Homo sapiens: one gene and its partners. The protein of the gene in region 1 interacts with the protein of each later gene in a biochemical or structural test. Each region holds a gene or a part of one and is shown on either strand. Other genes may lie near its edges.

What was found.
Region 2: the proteins of SETDB1 (region 1) and ATF7IP2 form a complex in vitro, tested with the Homo sapiens proteins (one study listed by BioGRID).
Region 3: the proteins of SETDB1 (region 1) and JARID2 form a complex in vitro, tested with the Homo sapiens proteins (one study listed by BioGRID).
Region 4: the proteins of SETDB1 (region 1) and ATF7IP form a complex in vitro, tested with the Homo sapiens proteins (one study listed by BioGRID).
Region 5: the proteins of SETDB1 (region 1) and AKT1 form a complex in vitro, tested with the Homo sapiens proteins (one study listed by BioGRID).

Annotation. Positions count from the first base shown.
Region 1 is NC_000001.11:150,949,050-150,954,833, forward strand, and holds part of SETDB1 (histone-lysine N-methyltransferase SETDB1), read left to right. Parts: intron 1-72; coding exon 73-229; intron 230-317; coding exon 318-476; intron 477-1,408; coding exon 1,409-2,041; coding exon of another isoform or gene 2,042-2,045; intron 2,046-2,315; coding exon 2,316-2,432; intron 2,433-5,784. UniProt on the Homo sapiens protein: Histone methyltransferase that specifically trimethylates 'Lys-9' of histone H3. H3 'Lys-9' trimethylation represents a specific tag for epigenetic transcriptional repression by recruiting HP1 (CBX1, CBX3 and/or CBX5) proteins to methylated histones.
Region 2 is NC_000016.10:10,426,301-10,432,084, forward strand, and holds part of ATF7IP2 (activating transcription factor 7-interacting protein 2), read left to right. Parts: exon of another isoform or gene 1-2,567; 5' UTR 2,568-2,716; intron 2,717-3,071; exon of another isoform or gene 3,072-3,345; intron 3,346-4,310; 5' UTR 4,311-4,320; coding exon 4,321-5,155; intron 5,156-5,784. UniProt on the Homo sapiens protein: Recruiter that couples transcriptional factors to general transcription apparatus and thereby modulates transcription regulation and chromatin formation. Can both act as an activator or a repressor depending on the context.
Region 3 is NC_000006.12:15,496,057-15,501,840, forward strand, and holds part of JARID2 (protein Jumonji), read left to right. Parts: intron 1-75; coding exon 76-1,114; intron 1,115-4,850; coding exon 4,851-5,353; intron 5,354-5,784.
Region 4 is NC_000012.12:14,367,791-14,373,574, forward strand, and holds part of ATF7IP (activating transcription factor 7-interacting protein 1), read left to right. Parts: intron 1-5,784. UniProt on the Homo sapiens protein: Recruiter that couples transcriptional factors to general transcription apparatus and thereby modulates transcription regulation and chromatin formation. Can both act as an activator or a repressor depending on the context.
Region 5 is NC_000014.9:104,786,965-104,792,748, reverse strand, and holds part of AKT1 (RAC-alpha serine/threonine-protein kinase), read left to right. Parts: intron 1-26; 5' UTR 27-105; coding exon 106-151; intron 152-5,784. UniProt on the Homo sapiens protein: AKT1 is one of 3 closely related serine/threonine-protein kinases (AKT1, AKT2 and AKT3) called the AKT kinase, and which regulate many processes including metabolism, proliferation, cell survival, growth and angiogenesis.

The DNA of each region.
Region 1 (5,784 bases):
GATCAGATGTGTGACTGAATACAAGCGTCATAGCTATCATCTTCTCAGTGCTCAATTTCCTTTTTCCTATAGGTGCTGTGAGGAGCAAAGGCCCTGTTGTCCAGTACACACAGGATCTGACCGGTACTGGAACCCAGTTCAAGCCAGTGGAACCCCCACAGCCTACAGCTCCACCTGCCCCACCTTTCCCACCTGCTCCACCTCTATCCCCCCAAGCAGGTGACAGTGAGTGAGTGTTATTCTTTCTTTTTCTTCAGTTTCTTTCATATTATATTTTCCACATCCCTTACTATATGCCCTCTTCTCTAATCTCCTAGAAGCTTGGAAAGCCAGCTTGCCCAGTCACGGAAGCAGGTAGCCAAAAAGAGCACGTCCTTTCGACCAGGATCTGTGGGCTCTGGTCATTCCTCCCCTACATCTCCTGCACTCAGTGAAAATGTCTCTGGTGGGAAACCTGGGATCAACCAGACATATAGGTGAGAAAATCTGAGGCTCTCTGTAGGCAGGATAGCAATGAGTGGTCACTGTGTAGGGGAAGGTTCCTTGGCTGTAAGCGAAGGGCTTAGTTTAAGCTTATGATAGTGAGGAGTTTGGACTTGAAAAGGAAGCTTTACCCATAGAAGTTCCTAAGAAATAGAAAGTAAGAATAATTGAATTGGAAGCTGGGTGCTTGGAAATATGGTATCATCTGAAAGCCATTTGTTAAAACTTCTTGTTGAACATGGTGCCATCATTGCTAAAATAGAAAGGAAACACCACAGCCTCTTTCCTTGGAGTTAGTAAGGACATTTTTAGAACACGCAGCAGACCAAAAAAACATTGGTAGAAGACTGGATTCTACTTCCATAATTCACAGGCAAATACATTTTAGGAAAAGGTATACTGTTGAAATAGAGATGTTAGGCCGGGCGCGGTGGCTCATGCCTGTAATCCCAGCACTTTGGGAGGCCGAGGCGGGTGGATCACCTGAGGTCGGGAGTTCGAGACCAGCCTGGCCAACATGGAGAAACCCTGTCTCTACTAAAAAATACAAAATTAGCCAGGCGTGGTGGCGCATGCCTGTAATCCCAGCTACTCAGGACGCTGAGGCAGGAGAATCGCTTGAACCCAGGAGGCAGAGGTTGTGGTGAGCCAAGATCGTGCCATTGTACTCCAGCCTAGGCAAAAAGAGCGAAACTTGTCTCAAAAAAAAAAAGAGAAATAGAGATGTTATCAGTCAGTGAAGAGTAACCAGGGAGTTTCATTGTCCAGGTTTGGTAGGGCAAGGGAAGATCTTTCTTGAATCATCTTTAGCTTCAGGAGCACAGCTGTTTGAAAGATGAGAGAAATGGCTTAGCTACCTGGAGGGTTAATTATAAAACAGAGGTCCTGTTGCCTTCCGATCTGATCACTTGCATCTCATTTGCAGATCACCTTTAGGCTCCACAGCCTCTGCCCCAGCACCCTCAGCACTCCCGGCCCCTCCAGCACCCCCAGTCTTCCATGGCATGCTGGAGCGGGCCCCAGCAGAGCCCTCCTACCGTGCTCCCATGGAGAAGCTTTTCTACTTACCTCATGTCTGCAGCTATACCTGTCTGTCTCGAGTCAGACCTATGAGGAATGAGCAGTACCGGGGCAAGAACCCTCTGCTGGTCCCGTTACTATATGACTTCCGGCGGATGACAGCCCGGCGTCGAGTTAACCGCAAGATGGGCTTTCATGTTATCTATAAGACACCTTGTGGTCTCTGCCTTCGGACAATGCAGGAGATAGAACGCTACCTTTTCGAGACTGGCTGTGACTTCCTCTTCCTGGAGATGTTCTGTTTGGATCCATATGTTCTTGTGGACCGAAAGTTTCAGCCCTATAAGCCTTTTTACTATATTTTGGACATCACTTATGGGAAGGAAGATGTTCCCCTATCCTGTGTCAATGAGATTGACACAACCCCTCCACCCCAGGTGGCCTACAGCAAGGAACGTATCCCGGGCAAGGGTGTTTTCATTAACACAGGCCCTGAATTTCTGGTTGGCTGTGACTGCAAGGATGGGTGTCGGGACAAGTGAGTTGGTGGGGGGAATTGCTGCCCCTGCTTCCAACTTTGTTATGGTGTCTGTTTCACCTCTTCCTTTGCCTTGTATCTGTACTGCTTTCCCCATCTTCCTTTACCTCCTCCCTCACCTGGAACTCCTGCTATAAGGCCTCCATGAAAGCTATGAGGTAGGGAGGCTGGAGTCTGACATGGCCACACTGAGCAACCTTGGGTACATGTGTATTGTGTTATTTTTGTTCTCTGATCCCCCCGCTCCTTTCCTTTATTTCCCTCTGTCATATAGGTCCAAGTGTGCCTGCCATCAACTAACTATCCAGGCTACAGCCTGTACCCCAGGAGGCCAAATCAACCCTAACTCTGGCTACCAGTACAAGAGACTAGAAGAGTGTCTACCCACAGGGTAAGTGGTCAAGGAATGGCACAGTACCTCAGAGAGACTGAGGAGCATGTTCTTGTTTTTCTGTGCTTATAGAAATCATCAGAAATCTAAAAATTGGAACCAAAAATAGAATACCAGATGAGGCATTTTATTAATTAGATCTTATTTCATGACTTCCAAAACACATTTTTTTTCTTGGACCTTCCTTGAAATGAAGACATAGAATGATTGAATAGTATCTAGCAATTTTCTGTTGCAAAAAAAGATTATCTTAATTTCATAGCTAAATGAATGTCTTAACAGATTGTGATTTACACTTGTAAGTGAAATGTGTTCAGAGAGGAGAAGTAGGCAGGGACCTGATTACATAGGGCTTTGTAAATCAGAATGAAAAAAGTTAGAATCAGGCTGGCACAGTGGCTCACACCTGTAATCCCAGCACTTTCGGAGGCCAAGGTGGGTGGATCACCTGAGGTCAGGAGTTTGAGACCAGCCTGGCCAACCTGGTGAAACCCTGTCTCTACTAAAAATACAAAAATTAGCCGGGGGTGGTGGCGGGTGCCTGCAGTCCCAACTACTTGGGAGGCTGAGGCAGGAGAATCGCTTGAATCCAGGAGGCAGAGGTTGCAGTGAGCCAAGATCATGCCACTGCACTTCAGCCTGGGTGACAAGAGCGAGACTCTGCCTTAAAAAAAAAAAAAGAAAAGTTAGAATCAAATTCATGGTGCTCTTACAGGATTTTAAGCTGCCAAGTGATGTGACCTGCCTTTTTCAGATTACTCTGGCTTCTTTGTAGATCATAGGTCTTAGGATGGCAAAAGTAGATTTTGGAAGACCAATTAGGAGATCGTTATAGGAGTACAGCAGAGAGAGACATTGTTGCAGCTATGACTTGCAATAGAATGGAGGTGATAGTAGAGGTAAGAAGGATAGATTTGGGCTGTATTAATAGGTAGAGCTACAGAATTGGATAGATTATGGAGTGGGGGGAAAGAGTAGAATCAAGGACAATTCCTAAATTTTTGGCTTGAGCATCTTAGTGGTTGTTGGTGCTTTTTACTGAGATGGAAGACCGAAGGAGTAGTAGGTTTGAGTGAAATTCAGTTTTTGTTTTGGCCATGTTAAGTTTGAAATGCCGCCGGGCGCAGTGGCTCACGCCTGTAATCCCAGCACTTTGGGAGGCTGAGGCGGGCGGATCACCTGAGGTCGGGAGTTCAAGACCAGCCTTGACCAACATGGAGAAATCCCGTCTCTACTAAAAATACAAAAAAAAAAAATTAGCCGGGCATGGTGGCGCATGCCTGTAATCTCAGCTACTCGGGAGGCTGAGGCAGGAGAATTGCTTGAATCTGGGAGGCGGAGGTTGTGGTGAGCTAAGATCGCACCATTGCACTCCAGCCTGGGCAACAAGAGCGAAACTCAGTCTCAGAAAACAAAACAAAACAAAAAGTTTGAAATGCCTGTCAGGCAATCCAAGTAGAAATGTCAAGAAGACACTGGGATTTCTGGAGAGAGTGGGATATAAAAATTTAGGAATCATCAGCACAGGAGTATTTAAAGCCTGAATAAGTTCACCTAGAGACAATGTTGATAATAGAGAAGGCGGCTCAGGAGTAAGCCCTGGGTGCCCCAACATTTAAAGGTTGAGCAGAGGAGGTGGAACCAGCATGAGGTTGAGGACAGCTACTGAGGAGGGTGAGGCCGAAAGATTACTTGAGGCCTGGAGTTTGAGACCAGACTGGGCAACATAGTAAGACCCTGTGTCTAAAAAAAAATTGTTGGGGCTGGGCGTGGTGGCTCACGCCTGTAATCCCAGCACTTTTCGAGGCTGAGGCAGGCAGATCACTTGAGGTCAGGAGTTCAAGACCAGCCTGGCCAATATGGTGAAACCCCATCTCTACTAAAAATACAAAAAACTTGCCAGGGATGGTGGCGAGCACCTGTAATCCCAGCTACTTGGGAGGCTGAGACAGGAGAATCACTTGGACCCAGGAGGTGGAGGTTGCAGTGAGCCAAGACCGCACCATTGCACTCCAGCCTGGGCAAGAAAAGCAAAATTCTATCTCAAAAAAAAAAAAAAATTGTTGGCCATGCGCGGTGGCTCATGCCTGTAATCCCAACACTTTGGGAGGCCAAGGTGGGTGGATCACCTGAGGTCAGGAGTTCAAGAACAGCCTGGCCAACATGGTGAAACCCCATCTGTAATAAAAATACAAAAATTAGCCAGGCGTGATTGTGCACGCCTGTAATCTCAGCTATTTGGGAGGCTGAGGCAAGAGAATCGCTTGAAGCTGGGAGGCAGAGATTACAGTAAGCTGAGATTGCACCACTGCACTCCAGTCTGGACAACACAACAAGACTCCGTCTCAAAAAAAATGATTTAAAAATTAAAAAAAAAATTTTTTTTTTTTTTAGATGGAGTCTTGCTCTGTCGCCCAGGCTGGAGTGCAGTGGCGTGATCTCAGCTCACTGCAAGCTCCGCCTTCCGGGTTCACGCCATTCTCCTGCCTCAGCCTCCCGAGAAGCTGGGACTACAGTCGCCCACCACCACGCCTGACTACTTTTTTGTATTTTTAGTAGAGACAGGGTTTCACCATGTTAGCCAGGATGGTCTCTATCTCCTGACCTCATGATCCGTCTGCCTCAGCCTCCCAAAGTGCTGGGATTACAGGCGTGAGCCACCGCGCCCAGCCTAAATTATTTTTTAAAAAATTAGCCGGGCATGGTAGATGCATGCCTGTAGTCCCAGCTACTTGAGAGGCAGAGGCAGAAAGATCACTTGAGCCCAGTAGTTCAAGGCTGCAGTGAGCTATGATCACACCACTACACTCTAGCCTGGGGTGACAGAGCATGACTCTTATCTCTAAAACAAGAGGAGGACAACAAAAGAGTGGGGTATAGCATGGTAAACTGGTATATATAAACACGTGAACTAATAAACCTAGTGATCAGAATACATAATTAACAGAACAGAGGAGAAAAGCATCAGTGAAATAATTCAGAAAGTGTCCCATAATTGAAGGATCTTTGTTTCTGAATTGAAAGGGCCAGTTAGGTCCCAACATAATGAAGGATAAAGGTAGGTTCCCATTAAGAGACATTATCATAAAATGTCAGAACACTGAGGGAAAAAAAAATCCTAAAAGCTTCTAGAGAAGAGAAATAGAACACGTTAAAAAATAGACTTGAAATGACTTCAGCCTTCCCTGAAAGTAGCACTAGAAGCTAGATAGCAATTGGAGAATCTGTTCAGAATTCTAAGGGAAAATTATTTCCAACCTGGAATTTTAAACTCGGGCAAACTATCAATTTGGTGTTACAGTAGGCTAAATACATTTTTTTAGACATGCAGTACCTCAGAGTTTTTCATCAT
Region 2 (5,784 bases), on another chromosome or scaffold:
GGTGGCTTTTTATTCTCAGCAATGAATTCAACTTCACTGAACGGGTTCTATGATAGGCAAACTATATAGTTAGAAATATTTAACTTACTTGCACCTTTTATCAGCAGTTTTACTTGTCTCCCCTAAGCATTCTCATGCAGACATTTTCCAGGTGAAATACCTCTCCTCAGAGCCGGAAGTTTAACCAGTTATGAAGTGTGTAATGTTAATGACCATTTAGTTCATGTTTTTCATGAAGTTTAACAAATTTACTCTGAGCTGGCACTCTGCATTCTTACTATATATTGTAATAATTGCACAGCCATGGTATAGCACCGTGTCCTTAAATAACTTACATCAGTGAAAGGCTTCTTTACCACCAGTAGGCTTCACTATTTCACACAACATGGAGTAGAGAAGGATGTCACAAGGAAGAGAGATCAAACTTTAACCATAAAAGAAAAAAAATTATTTAACTTGACTATATTAAAATTAGGAAGAGCCTAATAAGATACCTGTAACTCATATAACAAAGGATTGACAAGGAATATGTTTTTGGTTTTTGGTTTTTTTTTGTTGTTGTTTTTTTTTAAGACAGTGTCCCACTCTGTTGTCCAGGCTGAAGTACAGTGGTGTGATCTCGGCTCACTGCAACCTCCATCTCCCGGGTTCAAGCGATTCTCTTACCTTGTCCTCCCAAGTAGCCGGGAATACAGACGTGTGCCACCACACCCAGCAAATTTTTGTAGTTTTTAGTACAGACAGGGTTTCACCCTTTTGGCCAGGGTGGTCTCGAACTCCTGGCCTCAGGTGATCCGTTCGCCTCAGCCTTCCAGAGTGCTGGGATTACAGGCTTGAGCCACTGCACCTGGCCGGAATATGGTTTATAATATGTTAAGTATGCTTTGAAAATGAAAGAGGAAAGACACCCCAAGAAGTCATGAGCAGGAAATAACCAGGAATTTTTACAGACAAGTAAACATAGCTAATAAACATAGGAAAAGATGATAGTAATTAGGGAAACCCAAATTAAGACAATGAGAGCTAATTCTTTATCCAAGTAGATTGGCTAAAATCAAATCTGGCAATACCAAGGGTTCAAGAGGATGTGGCTCAGTGGTAACTCTTACGTATTGACTGTATGGATGCAAACTGGTAAAACTGCTCCAGGAAATAATTTGGTTTTCTTGAAAAGTTGAACATGGATACCTTTTCAGTATCTAGAAATTCACTCAGGAAATGCTTACACATAAGCCCCTTGAGACAGAAATAATCAGAATAGCATTGTTGTGTCAGAACATCAACAAGAACTGGAAATGTAATCCCAGCACTTTGGGAGGCTAAGGCATGAGGATCACTTCAGCCCAGGAGTTTCAGACTAGCGTGGGCAACATAGTAAGACCCAATATCCACAGAATTTTTTTTACAAATTAGCCAGTTGTGGTGGTGCATGCCTGTAATCCCAGCCTCTTAGGAGGCTGAGGTGGGAGGATAGCTTGAGCCTGGGAGGCTGAAGCTGCCATGAGCCATGCTGCACTCCAGCCTGGGTAACAGAGCAGCAAGACCCTGTCTCAAAAAAAAAAAAAAAGGAACTGGAGGTGACCCAAAGATCTTTCACAAATGATCAGATAAACAAATTTTGGTATATCTACCCAAAGAATTATTACAGTGCAAAGAAGAACACGAATTATTGCTATACGTAAGCACATGGATGAATTTTGTACATATACATAACTGAAAAAACAAGTATTAGCTATAGTTTGCTCAACAACAAAATTAAACAGTATATTTGTTTACATATGACATTTATGATGAAACTGTAGAAAAAGTAATAGAATTATAAACTAAGTTTAGGATACATCATCAGGATGGAGAAGAGGTGCAAGGGGCATAGTTTGGAGAAACATAAGTAAATGCAGGTTACTGATAGTATTCTACTTATTTGTTGCAGGTGTTTCAAAGATGTTCACTTTATTATACTTTGTAATTAACACATATTACAAGTCTTTTGTATGCATCAAATGTAGAGGCATTTTTTTACTCCAGAGCTTAAATTTCAGCACGTTTTACTAATTTGGGCCTTTTCCAAAGGCCCTTAGAAGGGCCATAGTAACAATATGTTCACGTGGTTGGATGTTTTCATCAGATTTACAATAGTAAGATATTTTAAGTATAGTCATTTAAGACCCCTGTCTCTCTTCACCTTGATTTCTTCTTTGTGTCAGCTGGCAGTAGAGTGGTTTCAGGCATTTTGTGATTGGGGGATTTATTTGTGTTTAGTGGGATGTGTTTGTGATTCAGAGTCATTTCTGGATGTAGGTAATTATAGCCTGTCAGCCTGATTGTGTTGGGAATGTGGTCTCTGGTGCCTGGCACCTGTAATATGTGAGTATTAGAGAAGCCAAAGTGCAAATTATGGAACCAGAAGGTAATCAGGAAAAAATTCCCAATTATCTGATGTTTAAAATTTTAAGTGTAGGATTTCGTTCTCATCAATTTCCAGTCAAAACAGCACTTTTCTCCTGTCAAAAATAACATAGCACATTCAATTATAAATTCACCATATATTTATTTTCTTTTTTTGATAGGAATCCTGCTTTTTTTTTTTCTTTGAGACACGGTCTCACTCTGTCACCCTTGCTGGAGTGCAGTGGTGCAATCACAGATCACGGCAGTGTCTAATTCCTGGGCTCAAGTGAACCTTTTGCATCAGCCTCCTGAATAGCTGAGACCACAGGTATGTGCCACACCTGGTTGAATTCTCCCTTTAAAATAATATAAGAATGTTTTTATTTGTAGGACACAAAACTGTAGCAGTGTCTTCAGGCAAAGCTGCTAATTTTATGCATCATGATTATCACTTTTAGCAAATACATCATAAAACCATGCTAGAGGAAAGATTTGATTTGTTCATTTTCTTTGGAAAATAATACAAAAATTGTATTCATGAAGAGACAATCATATAATACACAGTCCTATAGGAAAAATAGAATTGTATAGGCATATTAGGGTCTTAATTAATGAAGAGTATTGTGCTGTTTTTTGGATTTATTTAGTATATATATCAGGTTTGTTTGTGTGTTTGTTTTAAGACAGAGTCTCGCTCTGTCATCCAGGCTGGAGTACAATGGCACGATCTCGGCTCACTGCAACCTCTGCCTCCTGAGTTCAAGTGATTCGCTTGCCTCGGCCTCCCAGAAGCTGGGATTACAGGCATGTGCCAGCATGCCTGGCTAGTTTTTGTATTTTTAATAGAGATGGCGTTTTGCCCTGTTGGCCAGGCTGGCCTGAACTCCTGACCTCAGGTGATCCACCTGCCTCGGCCTCCCAAAGTGCTAGGATTACAGGCGTGAGCCACCCTACCAGGTTAGTTGGCTTATTTATTTAAGCTGGAATGTTATGTATCTTAGTGCTGGTTTTATTTTATTTTATTTTATTTTATTTTATTTTATTTATTTTATTTTATTTATTTTATTTTATTATTTTATTTTATTTTAATTTAATTTAATTTTTATTTTATTTATTTTACTTCATTTATTTTATTTTTATTTTGTTTTATTTTATTTTATTTTTATTTTATTTTATTTTATTTTTAGACTGTCTCACTCTGTTGCCCAAGCTGGAGTACAGTGGCGCGATGTTGGCTCACTGCAACCTCCACCTCCCGGGTTCGAGTGATTCTTGTGCTTCAGCCTGCCGAGTAGCTTGGGATTACAGGTGCATGCCACCATGCCTGGCTAATTTTTGTACTTTTAGTAGAGACAGGGTTTCACCACGTTGACCAAGCTGGTCTCGAACCCCTTACTGCAAATAATCCTTCCAACTCGGCCTCCCAAACTGCTGGGATTACAGGCATGAGCCACGACACCTGGCCACATTTATTTTAGAAACTTGAACATTAGGAAAGCTTAAACAGATGCCATTATGTATAGAAAATGGAATGTTTTATAAAAACTTTTTTTTGTTTTTATGAATAAGTGCAATTTAATGTTTAGATTATTTAAACTATGACTTACCTGGATAAAAAAATAGTGAATGGTTATAGCACTGAGGTGATATAACAAGAAGTGGCTAGATAAAACTATCAGGTAGAGGCTTACTAGCAATACAGATTTTGAATTTATGTAGTTTAGATTTATAGAAACAATAGAAAAGATTTTTATGTTTTCAGTGTCATGAAAATGGATATGATTTTCAGTAAGGTGATTATCTAAATATGGAGAGACAGTGTCAATGTTATTTTAATATTGTAAATAAATAACTTTAATTCAGTAGTAAATAACTTTTATTCACTAGAGAAATGCATTTAAATATGATGTCTTAAATTCCAGGATATGAAAGATGGCAAGTCCAGATAGAAGTAAACGGAAGATATTAAAAGCCAAAAAGACAATGCCCCTAAGTTGCCGGAAGCAAGTAGAGATGCTGAATAAGTCAAGGAATGTTGAAGCGCTGAAAACAGCAATTGGGAGTAATGTTCCAAGCGGTAATCAGAGTTTCAGTCCTAGTGTCATAACTAGGACGACTGAAATAACCAAATGTAGCCCTTCTGAAAATGGTGCATCCTCATTGGACTCTAATAAAAATTCAATATCAGAGAAAAGTAAAGTATTCTCTCAGAATTGCATAAAACCAGTAGAAGAAATTGTTCATTCAGAAACAAAATTGGAACAAGTTGTTTGTTCGTACCAAAAGCCAAGTAGAACAACAGAATCCCCCAGCAGAGTCTTCACAGAAGAGGCAAAAGATTCACTGAACACTTCTGAAAACGATTCTGAGCATCAGACAAATGTAACAAGATCCCTTTTTGAGCATGAGGGGGCTTGTAGTCTAAAGTCCAGTTGCTGTCCACCCAGTGTATTGAGTGGTGTTGTTCAGATGCCAGAGTCTACAGTAACCAGTACCGTGGGTGACAAGAAAACTGACCAGATGGTTTTCCATTTAGAAACAAACTCCAATTCAGAATCACATGATAAAAGGCAAAGTGACAACATTTTATGTTCAGAAGACTCAGGTTTTGTGCCTGTTGAGAAAACACCTAATTTGGTGAATTCAGTCACTTCTAACAACTGTGCTGATGACATTTTGAAAACTGATGAGTGTAGTAGAACCAGTATTTCAAATTGTGAAAGTGCAGACTCAACATGGCAGTCATCACTTGACACTAATAACAACAGTAAGTATATACTTATGCACCTTTTAGAAAAATTAAAATAGTCACTTTTCTTTAGGGTATTTTAAAGTCTCAAATATACAAACCAGTATAGACAGAAAAAAGGTAAATGATGACAATTATTTCACAGTATCTTGTTTCTGAACCATTCTTAGTGAGGTGGGGGACAGGTATCCACCATATTAAAAGGGTAATTATTGCAAAGAAGGAATCAATCACTTTTCCTTAAGTACAAAATATCAAAAGGTGGTTTATAGCAATTATTTGGTTCATTTCATATACATCTCTTCTTATTTTGAAGTTTTATTAGATTAAGAAGGAGGCTAGTTGAAAGAGTGAGTTTTAAAAATTGTTGGTAACCCTATTTCTTTTTTTTTTTTTTTTTTTTTGAGACGGAGTCTCGCTCTGTCGCTCAGGCTGGAGTGCAGTGGCGCGATCTTGGCTCACTGCAACCCCCACCTCCTGGGTTCGAGTGATTTGCCTGCCTCAGCCTCCTGAGTAGGTGGGATTACAGATGGGCACCACTACGCCCGGCTAATTTTTTTTTTTTTTTTTTTTGTATTTTTAGTAGAAACAGGGTTTCACCATGTTGGTCATGCTGGTCTCGAACTCCTGACCTCGTGATCCACCCG
Region 3 (5,784 bases), on another chromosome or scaffold:
ACGGGTGGGCCGGTCATTTTAGTGGCAGGTACTAATTCTGCGTTTTTTTCCACCTCTGCTTCTGCTGCTCCACAGGTTTCTAAGGTAAACGGAGTCACTCGAATGTCATCTCTGGGTGCAGGTGTAACCAGTGCCAAAAAGATGCGCGAGGTCAGACCTTCACCATCCAAAACTGTGAAGTACACTGCCACGGTGACGAAGGGGGCTGTCACATACACCAAAGCCAAGAGAGAACTGGTCAAGGACACCAAACCCAATCACCACAAGCCCAGTTCCGCTGTCAACCACACAATCTCAGGGAAAACTGAAAGTAGCAATGCAAAAACCCGCAAACAGGTGCTATCCCTCGGGGGGGCGTCCAAGTCCACTGGGCCCGCCGTCAATGGCCTCAAGGTCAGTGGCAGGTTGAACCCAAAGTCATGCACTAAGGAGGTGGGGGGGCGGCAGCTGCGGGAGGGCCTGCAGCTGCGGGAGGGGCTGCGGAACTCCAAGAGGAGACTGGAAGAGGCACACCAGGCGGAGAAGCCGCAGTCGCCCCCCAAGAAGATGAAAGGGGCGGCTGGCCCCGCCGAAGGCCCTGGCAAGAAGGCCCCGGCCGAGAGAGGTCTGCTGAACGGACACGTGAAGAAGGAAGTGCCGGAGCGCAGTCTGGAGAGGAATCGGCCGAAGCGGGCCACGGCCGGGAAGAGCACGCCAGGCAGACAAGCACATGGCAAGGCGGACAGCGCCTCCTGTGAAAATCGTTCTACCTCGCAACCGGAGTCCGTGCACAAGCCGCAGGACTCGGGCAAGGCCGAGAAGGGCGGCGGCAAGGCCGGGTGGGCGGCCATGGACGAGATCCCCGTCCTCAGGCCCTCCGCCAAGGAGTTCCACGATCCGCTCATCTACATCGAGTCGGTCCGCGCTCAGGTGGAGAAGTTCGGGATGTGCAGGGTGATCCCCCCTCCGGACTGGCGGCCCGAGTGCAAGCTCAACGATGAGATGCGGTTTGTCACGCAGATTCAGCACATCCACAAGCTGGGCCGGCGCTGGGGCCCCAACGTGCAGCGGCTGGCCTGCATCAAGAAGCACCTCAAATCTCAGGGCATCACCATGGACGAGCTCCCGCTCATAGGTAGGTCTGGGCGGGGGGTCAGGGGGTGGTGCCTGCCCTCCTGCCCCCAGATCCCTGCAGTTCCCTCACAGTCTTCACGTTCTCTTCCCTTGCGAAAGCTCCAGTTCCGCTTCCCTGTCTCGGGAGTAGTGGGCTTCTCAGCTCATTCCCCCTGCAGCCCTTCTTCCCAGGTCCTGGGCGTTGGTGGCAGGATAAGAATGGTATTGAGCTGCCGGGCGCGGTGGCTCACGCTTGTAATCCCAGCACTTTGGGAGGCTGAGGCGGGCAGATCATGAGGTCAGGAGATCGAGATCACGGTGAAACCCCGTCTCTACTAAAAATACAAAAAAATTAGCCGGGCGTGGTGGCGGGGGCCTGTAGTCCCAGCTACTTGGAGAGGCTGAGGCAGGAGAATGGCGTGAACCCAGGAGGCGGAGCTTGCAGTGAGCCGAGATCACACCACTGCACTCCAGCCTGGGTGACAGAGTGAGATTCCGTCTCAAAAAAAAAAAAAAAGTATTGAGCTTGGATCTGGGGTGAGCCCCCACTCTGGGTCTGGGCCCCTTGCTTCCCCTGGGCTGTCACCTCCTACCCACAACTGCTGGAGTTAAAGCAGGGGCCGGGGGGCCAGTGGGGAGCGCTGCCCCTCTGGATTCCACACTGGATTATAGAGGCTGGAAGCCCAAGGTCTAGGGGCCAGCAGGGTTGGTTTCTCCCGAAACCAACAAGACCTCCCTCCTTGGCTTGTGCATGGCTGTTTTCTCCCTGTGTCCTCACAGGGTCCTACCTCTATGTGTGTCTGTGTCTTCATCTCCTCTCCTTAGAAGGACATTGGATTAGGGCCCATCCTACTGACCTCTTTCTAACATAATTACCCTTTTGAAGACCCTGTCTCCAAATTCATTCATGTCCTGAGGTACTGGAGGTCAGGGCTTCAACATATGAATTTGGAGGGATCACCATGCAGCCCATAGCCCTCTAGGGTCCTGTAGGCCATTTTTTATCCTGCTCAGCCTTGTCTCTTCTTCCTCTGAGCTTCAGTTTCTCTGGCGATTTTGTCAAGGCCACAGGTCAAGGGATCTGTTGACCTTTTTTCTGAGACCAGGTTTTTTCTGAGACCTTTTTTCTGAGCTCTGGCTGGGGCTGTTGGAAACTTGTCACAGTGGATCCTTAGTGAATGCATATCTGGGCTGTCATGCAGACCCTTGCTCCTCAGGGTGGGTTGCAGGCAGATCCTCCTCTTGGGTTCCCCTGTAGCCCTCCTTCCCTGTCATCCTCTCTTCAGTCCTGCCACTGGGGACACAGGGTGAGGATGAACTTGCCTTGTTAAGGCTAAGTGGATTCTGTGGAGTGAGGTGCATCCAGGTAAGGTTGCAACCCCATCAGTCTAGACCCATGGGAGGAAACAGGCCACACCTCCATTTTGGAGATCCTCAATTTTCAAAGGCATGGAGACGTGTAGCCATCATTTAAGTGTCAGGGATTTGGCAGCAAGATAGGCTTCCAGGCAGGATGGAGGTTTCGTGGTTCCCCTCAGCAGGTGCCTGCCAGGACTGATGCCTGAGTGACAGTCACCTTAACTTGCAAGAGTTCTTGGTTTGTGCTCTGCTGTTGGGAATAGCACGTGATAGGAAGCAGTGCAGGGAGCAGGCTCTGCACACGCGTGCACCCACGCCCGCTGACCACGCCCCATGACTACTTGGGACACAGGATGACTGAGTCAGTGATGGAACCGCACCAAGTCCTCCTGCCTTTGGAGACCTGCAGACAGGAGGGAAACATTCCAAGTTTCCCTCCTCTGCTAGGTGGATGATGGAGCCTCGAGAGCACACTTGACATCGTAGTGACAGCGCCTTTTGTTTAGAGTAGGTTTTTCTTTACCCTCGACTCCCTTACCCTGGGACAAAAGCCATACTGTGCCTCCCTGTGGTGTGCTTATGCTTGTTGCCGTCACCCAGAAGTCTAAGGCGTCTGACATTCTGTCCCAGGGGTACTGACCTGTCTGTGACCCAGCAAGGCCTCAGGGCTGGGGTCTGAGCTCAGCCATCTGACAGTGGTAGAAACTTAATAACTTTGAAGTAATAGCCTAAAATCCACCCCAGCAGATGTGCCTTCTGCCTCTGTGTAGGTTCACTTCCACCGCAGGTCCCAGGGAGCCGCCGTGCCGCTGGCGGGAGTTGGGTGGGGAAGGGGCTCGGCCACGTAGCAGCCTCAAGGCCCTGAGTGGGAGTGATCGCAGCGGATGAGGATTCCATGAAGAATTCTTGCAAGCGCTGTGTGATTTTCAGGTGCTCTTGCGTTATAATCTACTTAGAGTGAAATATGAAAGTGTGGATTTCCTCCCTTCTGTGACCTGTGTTCTGAGTCACTCGGACGGTGGAGGACTTGTTTTGGTTGGGGGACTCGTTTTGGTGCCTACCTCTGTAAGTTGAGACAGTACCCACCTGCCCTCGGAGGAAGAACTCCCGATTGTCAGCCAGAGCCACCGTGAGTCCCACCTGTGACTCTGGGAGTCTGTGAGACCTGGAGTTTGTTGTGGAGTCTCAGTTCTTAGGTCCCTCCTGTCGAGGCTGGGGACAGTTCCCTCATGGATGTTACCCCAACTCCCCTGTTCTCCACAACCACATCAGTCCACTGTCCTGCCATTTAGTGTGAGTGGAATTCAGGCTGCTGTGTCCCCATCCCTGGTCTTGCTGGTGTGCTGGGAACTCGCTCTCTGTGTGTGCTGTGTCTGCCGAGGTGGTTCAGACGCTTCACCTAGTGGGTCCTGTCATGCTTGGTATGTGCAGCGACCCTGCCTGGACTGGATCCGTGCACACTTTACCTTTTATTACTTAAAAACAATATATCCCCACACTCTAAAGATTTAAAACGTTGTTAATTTGTACTTTGTTTAGTATTTTGTTGATGGTTATTTTGGAAAATCTCCCCTACCCCCCTTCCTTTATTTGGCCCGAGGGAGGTTGCTTTCTCCATTCCCATCTAGAAAAGCCACTGGGCGCGCGTTAAAACCTGCCCAGGTTTGATGTGCATTTGCGCTGCTCTGTGGCCTGATCAGGAGGGGCACTGAGCACCAGCTTATGCACTGAGAAGCAGCCCGCTGTCTGGATGGGCGAGGGACGAGGCATAGATGTGCTGCCCTGTGTCCTCACGCAGGTGTTGCTCTTTGCTCTGGAAATCCAGCAGGATGGAAAATAGACTTCCTTTGTGTGAGTGAGTGGGTGGATGGGTGAAGTTGAGTGAGTGAGTGGGTGGGCATTGGGAATTATAGAAGGGGAATTGGGAGTTGGTAACAAGCATGTGTCAAAGCTATTCTAGGTGACGCTGGGCCGTGGGTGCAGCCAGGACCCCTACCCACTCCTCACCAGGGAGCTAGTCTTCTCATGACACCCGCCTCCATGTGACAACACATGTACCAGTACATGGTACACTGGGATGTTCCTCCCTGTATGTCTGTCTGGCCAGCTCGCATCCTTTTCCAGCCAAGCCCCAGCTTAAATGCTGCCTCCTCAGACGCTCCCCACCTAAAATGGTAGTCCCTCGTTCCACCTGCTCTTCGTAGCAAGTGGTCATGACCCATCATTTTGTAACGCCCTTCTCTCTGTGGACCGGGAGTCTGCTGTTCACCACTCTCACCCCAGAGCCTGTCAGAGTCCTGGCTCATAGTAGGAGTTCAAGAAGTACAGGTTGAATGAGGAACATCTTGTTCGTGTCTCTTTCACTAACTGTCCCGTTTTTTTCCCCTTCGCTGTCCCAGGGGGCTGTGAGCTCGACCTGGCCTGCTTTTTCCGGCTGATTAATGAGATGGGCGGCATGCAGCAAGTGACTGACCTCAAAAAATGGAACAAACTAGCAGACATGCTGCGCATCCCCAGAACTGCCCAGGACCGGCTGGCCAAGCTGCAGGAGGCCTACTGCCAGTACCTACTCTCCTACGACTCCCTGTCCCCAGAGGAGCACCGGCGGCTGGAGAAGGAGGTGCTGATGGAGAAGGAGATCCTGGAGAAGCGCAAGGGGCCGCTGGAAGGCCACACAGAGAACGACCACCACAAGTTCCACCCTCTGCCCCGCTTCGAGCCCAAGAATGGGCTCATCCACGGCGTGGCCCCCAGGAACGGCTTCCGCAGCAAGCTCAAGGAGGTGGGCCAGGCCCAGTTGAAGACTGGCCGGCGGCGACTCTTCGCTCAGGAAAAAGAAGTGGTCAAGGAAGAGGAGGAGGACAAAGGCGTCCTCAATGACTTCCACAAGTGCATCTATAAGGTAGGGGCCTCCGCAGAGCAGCCACTCCCAGCTGCAGGAGTGCGGGAGGAATGAGAGAGGAAGTGGAGCGTGCTATGCACTGGACGGTGTGTTCTCTGATTCCCTGGGGTGATGAGGGGGCGGGCCACTGTGCTGGGTGATAGCGCTGTATTAGTCCTCTCGTGTTGCTGAAATACTACAGACTGGGGAATTCATAATAAACAGAAATGTACTGGCTCCTGGTTGTGGAGCCTGGGAAGTCCAATATCGAGGAACCTAGTGAGGGCCTTGTGGGTGCGTTGATGGGGCAGCAGGAGACCCAGTGAGGGAGGGGAAGTCCACTCCACGAAGATACCACGAGTCCATTCCGCCTGCCTAGGGCCTCGGGTTTCCTTTTCATTAACTGGCTTGCGTGTGCGTGTTGCATGCACGTGCACACATCTCCATATGCC
Region 4 (5,784 bases), on another chromosome or scaffold:
TCATGTAAACTTAATAAGATTAATTAATTGCCTGAACACCAACTATTTGTTTATTAGTACTTTGTCAATAACAAGTATATTTTAAAATTTTAGTTTGGTGGTTATGATGCCACAAAATTTTGACACATATCCAACATATATAAATATTAAGACTAGGTTACTCCAGGAATGAATACCAAGTTACTGAAGTTATTTAAAATCTTTGTAGTTTTGTAAATTTAAAAATTTATATGTAGTTTAGAAAAGACAGGTTTGAGTTATTAAACAATTAGAACTATTTTTTCTTTAAATTAGGTTTTGCATATGTGATAAATGTATTTAAATATTTTTAAACTTATTCATTATAGAACATTTGGAAAATATTGAAAATTAATTAACAATGCTTAGAAATAACCACTCTAAAGGTATTGGTGATTTGTGACTTCACTTTTCCATGATTGAGCAATCTATAAATGTTTATTAATTAGTTTTTCATTGGTACCATAATTTCATTTCTACTCTTTTAATGTTATGAGTATTTTCCCATTTCATTATTCTTCTAAAATATGTCTTTAAATGGTTGCATGATACTTTATTATAATATCCCACATGATCAAATGTTCTTTTTAAACACATTTTAAAATGGTTACATATTATTGTTATCTCTAAGAAGAATTTACTGTGATTTATTAAACCTTTCATTTTTTGTTTCCTGTTTTGCTTTTTGCTCATTTCTCTATTAAAAATAATGCTACAGTGAACGTTCTTGTACTATACCTCAGAATATTTCTTTGAAATTACTTTCAAAGGACTTTTAAAGTAATTTGCAAAATTGATAAAAACTTTTTTTTGAAAAGCATTTTTTATCATATTCAATACCACCATCAATTAGATGGGTGAAAAATAGTAGCTCATTAACTTTTTTTGATAACTAGTGAAGTTGAATTTGTTATTGTTTTATATATGCATTTTTTTCATTTTCTGTGAATTAGCTGTTTGACTTTTTGTGTATTTTTCTATGATGAGTGTTACTGTTTTTCTTATTTGTTGGTAACAGCTACTTACGGCTTTGGGGTCCTTAGCTTTTAATATTTGTCACAGTAATTTTAAAATTACCTTTTAAGTGGTTTATGATTGTATATGTTAAGAAGTTTTGCATTTTTATGTAGTAAAATGTACTGCCCCCCTTTTTTTTTTTGAGATAGGATCTTGCTCTGCTGCGCATGCTAAAGTGCAGTGGCAGTGATCTCTGCCCACTGCAGCCTCGACCTCCCAGGCTCAAGCAATTCTCCCACCACTGGAGTAACTGAGACTACTGGTGAAGGATATCACACCCCGCTAATTTTTTCTTTTTTTTTTTTTTTTAATAAACAAAGCCTCATTATGTTGCCCAGGCTGGTCTTGAACTCCAGGGGTCAAGAGAGTTTCCCACTTCAGCCTCCCAAAGTGCTGAGATTACAAGCATGAGCCACCATGTCCAGCCTGTACTGCCTTTCCTTTTTCCTTTATGATTTCTACAGCACTTGTCTGCCCAGAAAATATTACCTGTTGTAAGGTGAATTGTATGTTTATATTGTATTTTATTTTATTATTATTGTTTTTTGAGGTGGAGTCTAGCTCTGTCTCACAGGCTGGAGTGCAGTGGTGTGATTTTGGCTCACTGTAACCTCTTCTTGGGTTCCAGCGATTCTGCTACCTGAGCCTCCCAAGTAGCGGATTACAGGCGTGCACCACCATGCCCTGCTTTTAGTAGAGACGGGGTTTCCCCGTGTTGGCCAGGCTCGTCTTGAACTCCTGACCTGAGGTGATCTGCCTGCCTTGGCCCCCACAGTGCTAGAATTACAGGTGTGAACCACCGTGCACAGCCTTGTTCATGTGTTTTGTTAATTTTTTACTAGAACTTTTTCTGGAAGTTTTAATAAACTTAAAAAATACTTTTACATCTATGTGGACATATCTGTGTTTTGACATATTGTGTGTTAAGATAAGTTGCTAGTTTCCATTTTTTTCCAGATATCTAGTTTCCATAGACTTGATCCATTTCTTATTGCTTTGGTAGCAAACAATTCTGATTCATATACTAGGTATATTTAACCTGGGGTCCATTGTCCTCTAGGGGTTCCACCGATCCCTTGATATACACAATTTTATGTAAGTCTGCATATGTTCATTTTTTTTTTTTTTTGAGATGGAGTTTCGCCCTTGTTGCCCAGGCTGGAGTGCAATGGCACGATCTCAGCTCACCGCAACCTCCGCCTCCCAGGTTCAAATGATTCTCCTGCCTCAGCCTCCTGAGTAGCTGGGATTACAGGAATGTGCCACTATGCCCGGCTAATTTTGTATTTTTAGTAGAGACGAGGTTTCTCCATATTGGTCAGGCTGGCTCGAACTTCCTACCTCAGGTGATCCGTCTGCCTCGGCCTACCAAAGTGCTGGGAGTACAAGTGTGAGCCACTGCGCCTGGCCTCCTATGTGCATTTTTCTGGGGAAAAAGTGATAGCTTTCATTAGCTTCTCAAAAGAATATATGATATAAAGTTTAAACAGAGGTTGACAATGACTGTATCTGGGCCTTATTCTTAGAGCATTATTGCATTGTTTTATTTGCTGTAGGACGGTACACAATTTAAATATGTGTTTGTAGTGCTATATCCTATATAAAATCCAATACCCACTCACAATTCTATTTTACAATTTTCATAGCTGATTTTGACTGTTTTTGCAGATCAACTTTAGGTTCATTTGGTTAATTAAGAAAAAAAAGCCAGCTAATGGTTTTGGTTACAATTCCATTAAATTTACATTGGGTGAATTTATAACCTTATACTATTTTTTTTAATTCATCGGTATTACACACTTCCTGTAGACTACCAAAAAGCACTATTTCCTAGGAACTCTGGGAGAATTTGTGGTATCTGTGACTTTTCAGGAGGATGTTTTCTTGGTGCAGCTATAATTTTAGTAGGGATGAATTAGGAGACAATATAAGGTTATATTTCTGTTTTCAATCTGGTTTAGGACATGATGACATAAAAGTAGTATCAGTATGAAGTTAGACGTGGGAAAAATAAGTCGCAAAATAAAGTATTGTACAATATTCGAAATCAAAATCCTTTTTTGTTAAACACAGACAATTTTTTTTTTTTTTGATGGAGGAATTTGAAAAGGTACCTTACTCCTTTTCTGGCCAGGGTGAGGCTTAATCTCATAATAAAGATAAAAAATTTTTATTTTAGTTTCCTTGGTATCATTAAATTATTATATTTTCTGATAAGGATGTTTCCCTAATTATTAGAATAAATTTATTTTCCATTAAATCTCTTTTTTATGCTGATTGCATTGAAAAAGATTATCTTGATTAATAAGGATGTATTTCAGCTGTAATTCTACTTTATATCTTTTAAATAATTGATTCAGGAGTCAGTTTATTGCCAAAATAACATTTTTATTGAACTAAACTTGTAAATTAGTGGAGGAATGAAAAGAAGAAATCACGGAAATATAGAACTCAAATGATAAAATATTATTGGCTTTATGAAAATAAATCTAGAAAATGGATATAAAATATTAAGATATTATTGGCCTTTCTTAAGCAGTTTATCTTTTTTAATGAAAAATCCCTGCCTTTGGGTCTTTTTCAAGCAACACTGCTTATAACAGCTTAGATATTTTACTTTTTTGTGAAAGTTGAGAACTTTTTCTAGTTCTGGTTTATTATTATACTTGGTTTCTAGACTATAACAGATGAGGAGTAAAAAATTAGAAGTGCTACTTGAGAAATGCATTTTGGTAGGGAAAAGAAATGATGTCCAGCATCATGATAGTAAAGGAGGGTTATATTTCTACTGTTAGAAGCAATAATTTATAAACTTAGTTATGAGGCTATTTAGTTTGGGAATCAGTATTCCCAGAGCTGAATCAGTAGTTATAGAATGTTCATTATTAATTGATGATTTTATTAATGATTCTGAATCAGAGAATATTGTTATATTTAACCTATTTCAGAAGGGAAATGAGCGTGTGATTTAGTTTAGAAGGATTTCTATTATAATTTTTTCTTTTAGGTTTTGAGGCCTATGGAAAATTTATGCATTGGCTGCATACCTTGTTTTTCAAGGGAGTCACATGTATAAAGAAGCTTGAGAATAAAGTTCCTGCCTTTTGAGTTTCTAACAGTTGTGGGGCATATTATTGATTGAAAAATTAGGTGATGTTTTAACATTATTTAAACAGATTACCTTAATGTCATTAATTAGCTTCAGAGACCATAGTCCTTGTCACTTTCCTAGAGTACTTAGAAATTGCCTATCCTTTAGTGGAACTCTCTTTTAAACTTCTTGCTTGTTTGACCTTATATTTTATTAGAGAGGCCAAGAGTATTTAAACATTACTTTGCCATGTTCTTTCTCAGATTGTCCTGCCATCCACAGAGTAAATCAGGGGCTCCTCCAGGCATTTTAATTTGTTGAAAACAAAGAAAATTAAACTTTTTATAGATGATTCAGCTTGCATGGTGGAAACCATTTTGTATTGGAGACAGAGAGTGAGTGCTGGGGAGCACTTTCAGTTAAGAATAAGTAGATCAGGGCTACTAGTGCTTGTTTATATGGTGTGAATGTTTCAATTTTAAATTTCGATCATTTGGAGTTTAGAATCTTTAAGAGGATGACTCAGGTACCTCAGCCACTTTTCAAAAAAAAAAAAAAAATACCATAGGCCTAAGGGAACAGTTATACCTTCCTGAGAGTCTTTATAGTTGGACCTATATGAATATGAGAATCTGGGAAATGAAGATGACTTATTAACTTTGCCATCAGAAATATGCACTTATTCATGTCTGCAGTTTTCCATTGCTCAGAATATTATAAGAAACATTTTGTGTTCTTTTATATCCAATAACTGGTAGTAACTAGCTGTATTTGGGAGAGAGGACCCCTTTGTATGATGGTGATGTGAGGTAGTAATGCCATAATGTCTTACTATATATGATCCGTTCTCCCTTTCTTTGTTGTTTGTATAGCCCTATGCTACTTTGGGGAAGTATTATCTGGTTTGATACCTAGAAATTATGTGTCCATCACTCTTGGCATTCTAATAATTTAACATTCTAATAAGAAATTTGATTTGTATGTTAGAATAGTTGTCCTCAGAACTGTCAAAGCTGTAAAAGGAACTTTCTTTGGTTCAGTAATTCTCAGTGATAATGCCTACCATTTTGTAGAAGGATAAAGCTAAAAAGATGGAAAGGGAATCTGCTGTTTTGAGGACCAGGAGAAAGAGTTTGATGGAACAATAAAGGATGACTTGACTGCTGCAGCTTATTCCCAGCTAAGGCTTTGGAGCCTTAGATGTATATCTGCCCTGTTACTCTTATTAGATAGAATGTCATAGGAAAAAGCATGTAAGGGAAAAGAGAGACTGCTTTTGAACTCTTTTATTTCCTTTTAGGTGGTAAATGTCAGAAGTGAATTCCATTAGAGTAAAAACTAAGCTGCCACAGTATAGGAGACTCCATTCCTGTTGTTTAAAGATGACACATGTTTTTTTCTCATGTAACCATACAAAGTAAGACTGTTTAGAGTTTGTAAGTGGTTTTGCCTTAACATATGGCTTCCATCACTAGGTGAAACATGATTACTCTCTAGTTTTACTAGCTAGAGGCAAGGAAGAAAGAACAATGGGAGTGCATATTCTTTCTTTTGAGAGCATGATATGGAAGTGGCACATAGCACTTTGACTCATGGTTTATGTGTGATCATTTAGTCATTGGGACATATTTAGCTGGGAAAGGAAGTCTGGGAAATAT
Region 5 (5,784 bases), on another chromosome or scaffold:
CATTCAGCTTCCTTTGCTTCTCCCAGAGGCTGTGGCCAGGCCAGCTGGGCTCGGGGAGCGCCAGCCTGAGAGGAGCGCGTGAGCGTCGCGGGAGCCTCGGGCACCATGAGCGACGTGGCTATTGTGAAGGAGGGTTGGCTGCACAAACGAGGTTAGTACCCGCTGCCAGGGCTGGGCCTGGGGAGGGAGAGATGGGGGTAGTAGCCCCAGGGTCTGTGAGTGCCTGTGCCCTGCTGGGTGGGAGGGGCTGCCTCCCCTGGGGCTCCTGGGCTGGCCTAGGGTGAGTGTCCTGGGCCCCATGTCTTCCCATGGCATGGAGGGCACGGCCTCGGGGAGGCCAGGAGGATGAGGCCCTGTGCAGGGCCGGCCATCTGAGTGGCTTCCTGGTGTGGGCCCTGGCAGGCGGGGGAGCTGCTGCCAGCCTCTCTCCTGGCTTTCCTGGAAGGCAGCGAGGACACTGGGCTGTTCCAGGGTCTGGCACGCTGGCGGCCCAGGGCACTGCCCAAGGGCTCCTGAGGGCAGGGCAGGGCTGCTTGGCTTGGCCTGGTGCCTGCTTCAGGCCTGAGCTTTGGGGGTGGGGGGAATCCGTACCGCCTGGGCACAGGGCATGTTTGCCTTGGAGCTGCAGAGCTGGCTGAGCCAAGTCCCCCAGCCCCTGTGTCCCCCTCCTCACTCATTTGGCCTTGCAGCCTATGGAGGAGGTGCTGCCCGAGGGGCCTGGCCAGCAGCTGGGTGGGATGGGAGCTGGGGACATAGCCCCACCCCTTCCAACCCTGTGCAGGCCCTTCTGCCTCACCCACCCTCCGTTGCTCAGCGGGGTGCGGTGGAGTCTGGGTGGCTGTTTTGCTCCTCTGTCCTGCTAGGGTGGGCTTCCTGTTCAGGTCCAGGTCCTCTGGCCAAGTCACTCTCTTCTGCCCCAGGCGGAATCGGTCCGCCCTCTCCTGACTTCTTTTTCCAGACTTGTTCCCTCCTAAGTTCTAGTGATCTCATGCCAGCAGCCCCCCGGCTTTACGTACACCCTCTAGCAGATGGGTTTCACATCTGGTAGTGGGGAGACCCCAAACACAGCTGGAGCAGACAGGGAGGTGTGGCAAAAGTAGGTGTCACAAGATGGGGCATTGTGGGATGTATAGGAGCTCACAGAAGAGCAGGCCTAAGGAGCCACAGGAGCCTGGGGGTGGGGTGAAGGAGTGACCGAGATGAGATGCTGGGGGAATCAGGGGTGTGGCTGGCTGTGTGTTTGGAGTGTTTGAGTGGGCAGCTACCAGTGATGGCACGCGGGGCCTCGAGATGAAGACAAGGAGGCTGCAGACGCCTGTGGTCCTTGGGGAGCTTCTGGCTCTGCTTCCCCCCAAGGCCTCCTGCCGCATCCTGCCTTCTCCATCCCCTCCCCGTGTGCTGTCCCCTGCTTGTTCCCCAGGAGTCCTGCCACCTGTGCCTGGAGGTCCTCTCCTCACCTCACAGCCCTCTTTGGTGTCAGGGACCCCCTGCCCCGACCCTGGCCCTGTTCCTCTCTGTGTCACATAGTCTGCTGCCTGGGGCCGCTGCTTCTTTATCCTTGGCAAATGTGTGTTTGTTGATAGACTGTTGGATCTCGGGCTGACCCAGGAGATGCCAGGGCCTTGACTGCCCAGGGGCCCAGGCCCCAGTTACTGGGGCACCCATCAGCCAGCTGGGCCTAGGCAGGAGTGCTCCCCCGAGGCCAGGTGATTTTCAGGCTGCTGCTGATGTCGTGCCTTCAGGAGGGGCCTGGCAGGGACAGGACATCAGGCCCAGTGGGGCGTCCAGAGAGCTGAGTTTGAACCCTGGTTAGCCACTCTATCGCCATGACCCTTTCCAAGAGCAAGGTCATTGAGCTCCTTGGGCCTCAGTTTCCCCATCTACACCAGGGAGCGGTGGTGGGAGAGAGACCTGGTGGAGTGGAGAATGGCTTGTGGGCGGCCCTGAGTTGGGGTCCGGCCAGCCTCAGCAGCCTCTGGGCTCTGTCATCTGGCCCCTAGCCTCAGGCCAGGAGAGAGGGTCCTGTACCTCTACCCCCGGCTCTTCCTCCTCCATCCCCAGTGTAGTGGGCGCTGAGGATGGGAGGTGGCGTGGATATGACATATGCCCTTGGCAGGCATAGCCCCTCTTGTTGCCGAGAGCAGGTGGCGTCCACCCGCATGGCCGGCCGCTCCTTGCGGAGGAAAGCCTGTCCTCCGGGGCCTGCCGCATTTCGCCACTCCCGTCCCTGGGGTCCCCTGTGTGTCTTGCAGATGTGCTGTGCCACCCTCCTGGCAGGGCCAGCCCCACCCGCAACACTGGTTAGAGGTACTAGCTGCCTTCCTGTCCCTAGCAGGGCTGTGCTGGGCTGACCCCACCCGTGCTTCACAGTGCTCAGGCCTGGCTGGGGGTGGGGAGGGAGGGAGGGACGCAGTGACTGTCCTCCAGGCCCGGCCGCAGCCCCTTGCAGACGCCCTGTTCCACTCCCCCCCAGCCTTGCTCCTGCAGGTCAGGGTGCTTGTCTCAGAGGCTGGCCCGCACCTGTCCCCTTTGCCGGGACTCCCCACGACCGTGGCCTGGGGCACTTTGGTTCTCAGCTGAATCCCCAGGTGACAGTCCCACCACGGCTACTTGGGCTGGCCACACGTGGCGTGATGGTGCCTTCAGGGGTGATGTGGTCATTGAGATGAGAGGGGACGGGTATGCCCTGTGTGTGAGGGGTGGGGTGGCAGTGTCTGCAGGCTCCTTCTCCTGCTCCTTGGGAGGTGAGCGTCATCTCTGGGAAGTGGCCCAGGCTGCTTTCTGTTGTTCTGATGTGTGTGCTCTGAGTCAGAGGAGCTTCAGGGACAGAAGGGACCGGGCATGGGGACACAGGAGTTCCGGCTGCAGGCCTGTGTGGACCTGTGGCTGGACCCAGGCGAGGCCTCTGGGTCTGCACATCTAACAGGGAGATGGTTCCTGGAGGGTGAGCTTAGGCTGTTAAGGGCAGGAGCTAGTGAGGAGGCTGGTGGGGCCTATAGGGACAGGGGGCCAGATGTCCCCTCCTGTTTCGGCTGTCTCACTGGATAAGCAGCCCAGCTCAGCTCTGGCCATTGGTGGTCTGGTGGGCTCAGTGTTGCTCAGACGTTTGCATTTTCAAAGATTTGTTCTGTTGTGTGAAGTCTCCTGATTTTTGAAGGCTGACAATTTTAAAAAATCAATCCTGGGCCAGGGCGCAGGTCTGGCTGAACTCGGCCTCCAGCCTGCAGTTTTCCTTCCTTTGATAGCTCCGTGCCAGGCTTTGGCCAGAGGCTGTGTGGCTCTTTTGAGGTACTTTCCCCAAACAGCTTGCTCACCTTGCCCGCTTGCCCCAGTACTCCTGGGGCCGTGCACCAGCCTGGCTGCAGCCTAGCCCCGTGGAGAGCTGCCCTGGTGCAGCCCCGGCCTGGAGCCTGTTTTTGTCCACTCGCGGCTGTCTTCCTGAGCGTCCCCCCGTCCACATGGCTGGACCAAGTGGGTCAGGAGAGGGCCGAGGCGGGTGGCCGGGATGCTGGGACCCAGGATGAGGTGCTCTGGGCTCTCGAGAAAGGGCTGGGCCTAGGCCAGGAGTGGGTGCCGGCCGCAGGGGCACCACCTGGACTCCCTCAGGCTGGTCGCTGTCCGAGAGGGGCCGGGGAAGAGCTGCAGGCCTGGCTGCCTTCGGCAGGCTGTGACCCAGCAGGCCAAGGCCGAGTGGGCGGGGGTCGAGGGAAGCTGCCTGGGGCGCGTGGGTTACGCGGCAGACGCTCCTGAGTGTGTGGGCAGCGTGTCCAAGCCACGGATCTGGGTGCCTGGCCGGGCCCGGGTGACACGGGACCGTGTGTCCATGCGGCTCACGGAGGGTCCAGTCTCCGGACATCTGAGTCCTTGCCATGCCCTACCCCGGGCCCATGCCTGGCATAGACCCCCCAGTCCAGGCCTCAGGGCAGCCCCCTCACCACTCCTGCTGAGTTAGCCCCAGGCGTCCCGGTGGGGAGTATGGAGGCTGGTCTCTGACCCCAAGCAGGTGCCTAGGCTGGGCCTCCTTCCCACCCCCTCTCCCCGCCTTGAAGTCCTGGCACTGGCTGTCCCTGCGGGGGGGCACTGAGGCAGGGAGAGAGTGGTTCCTACCCCAGTGTGTTACTTCGCTTTGGTGAGCGACATAGAACCTCACTGCATCCCCAGCTGCTGCTCAGCCATCCAGCTGGTCCTGGGGTCCCTGCGTGAGGTGGGGGACCTCAGAGGGTACAGGCCACTCCCCTTCATCCTGGAGGAGGCCTTGGCTTTGCTGAGTAAACACCCTTGAGAAGAGGTCTGTGGGGGACTCTGAGCCCACTCCAGAGAGCAGCTGCTGCGGAGGGCCCCGCAGGGCTAATTGTTTGTGTGCAGATGGAGGCTGCTCATTACCCCGCCAGGATGAGGGGCCCAGCAGGACCCTGAGGGAGGGAGCCCGCAGACTCTCCCCTCAGCCTGTGGGAACCTTTGGGCTCCAGGCCAGGGCTGCCTGTGCCTCCTGGGCCTCAGTTTTTCCCAGGCTGTCAGGTGAGGGTCAACCCCAGGCTGCGTCTAGGTGGCTTCAGTGTGAGACCCGCGGGCCCTGGGCTGGTTAGTGCCAAGCTCTGCCTCCCCTGGGGGAGCGTTGAGGGTCTGGAACGGCCCCCGTGGGCAGGCCAGGGACAGAGATGGGGAGGCAAGTGTGCTGGCTCCTGGTGGGAGGGCTGGGCAGAGAGTGGGGGTCCCAACAGCCCTGGGCCTACCCGGGAGAGGGGCAGGAGGCACAGGCTGGTGGAGGTCATGGCATGGCTGTGGTGGAGGCCGCCAGCATCAGGGAGGTTCCTGTTTTGGGAGCTTGTTGAGTTCTCACTTCAAAAACAACAAAAGAGGAAGCCGAGGTGGCCTTGAGTGGGGGTGAGGGGTCACTGCTGGCCCCAGCCCTGGACCTTAGCCCCCACGCCTGGTGGCTCCTGAGTGGACAGCTCTTCTTCCTGTGTGTTTCTTGGTCACTGGCCCTCTCTGGGCAGGGATGCCCTGTGGGGGGCTGGACTCCGGGAAGGGAAACTGAGGCCCAGGAGAGTGGACAGAATGTGGGTGGAATGATTCCTGTGCTGGGGCCTAGACCCCCGTACACCTTCCACTCTCAGGAGAAGCCTGGCCGGGTTGCATCAGGCCGGGTTCCTAGAAGTCCTGCACGAGGCTGAGCGGAGGGAACTGGCGCGGCCCCCGCTGGCGTCCCCTCTGCCTGGGCACACCCGGCCCGGCTTGGGGCCAGCACCCTGCCCTCGGGCCCTCCCATAGCTGAGACTGGTGGCTGTGGCTGTGGCTCTGGGCCTGCTCCCCAGGCCACCCTGGGTGGGCAGCTGCCTGCTGCTTCTGTCTGCTTGGACCATTGTGCCTAGTCCCATGGCCTCAGGAGAAGGTTCCCCCAGCCCAGCGCTGGGGCCCCGGGCAGGTTGGCAGAGGGCCCTGGGGCTCCAGGCCAGGATGGGGCTGTTAGGCGAACCCTAGGCCCCTTACTTCCTCATCTCCAACGGGAGTTCCCTTCCCTGCCATGCCGCCTTTAGGTGTGTTTTCCTTGAACCTTAAGGAATGATAGGTTTGGATTTCAGAAACGTTGGAATTGAGGGGGTTGGGAGTTCATGGGTGACTCTGCTGCCAATGTTGCGGGCTTTGGGGTGGGATCCTTGGGGCGCTGTGTTTGGGCTCACACACCCCCCAGGCGGGCCCGGTGACTGCAGACCCCACCCATACCCTGTAACCTGGCGGGCCCACCTGCCCAGGCCCTCAGCTGGTTGTCCAGCTCAGGGGTGG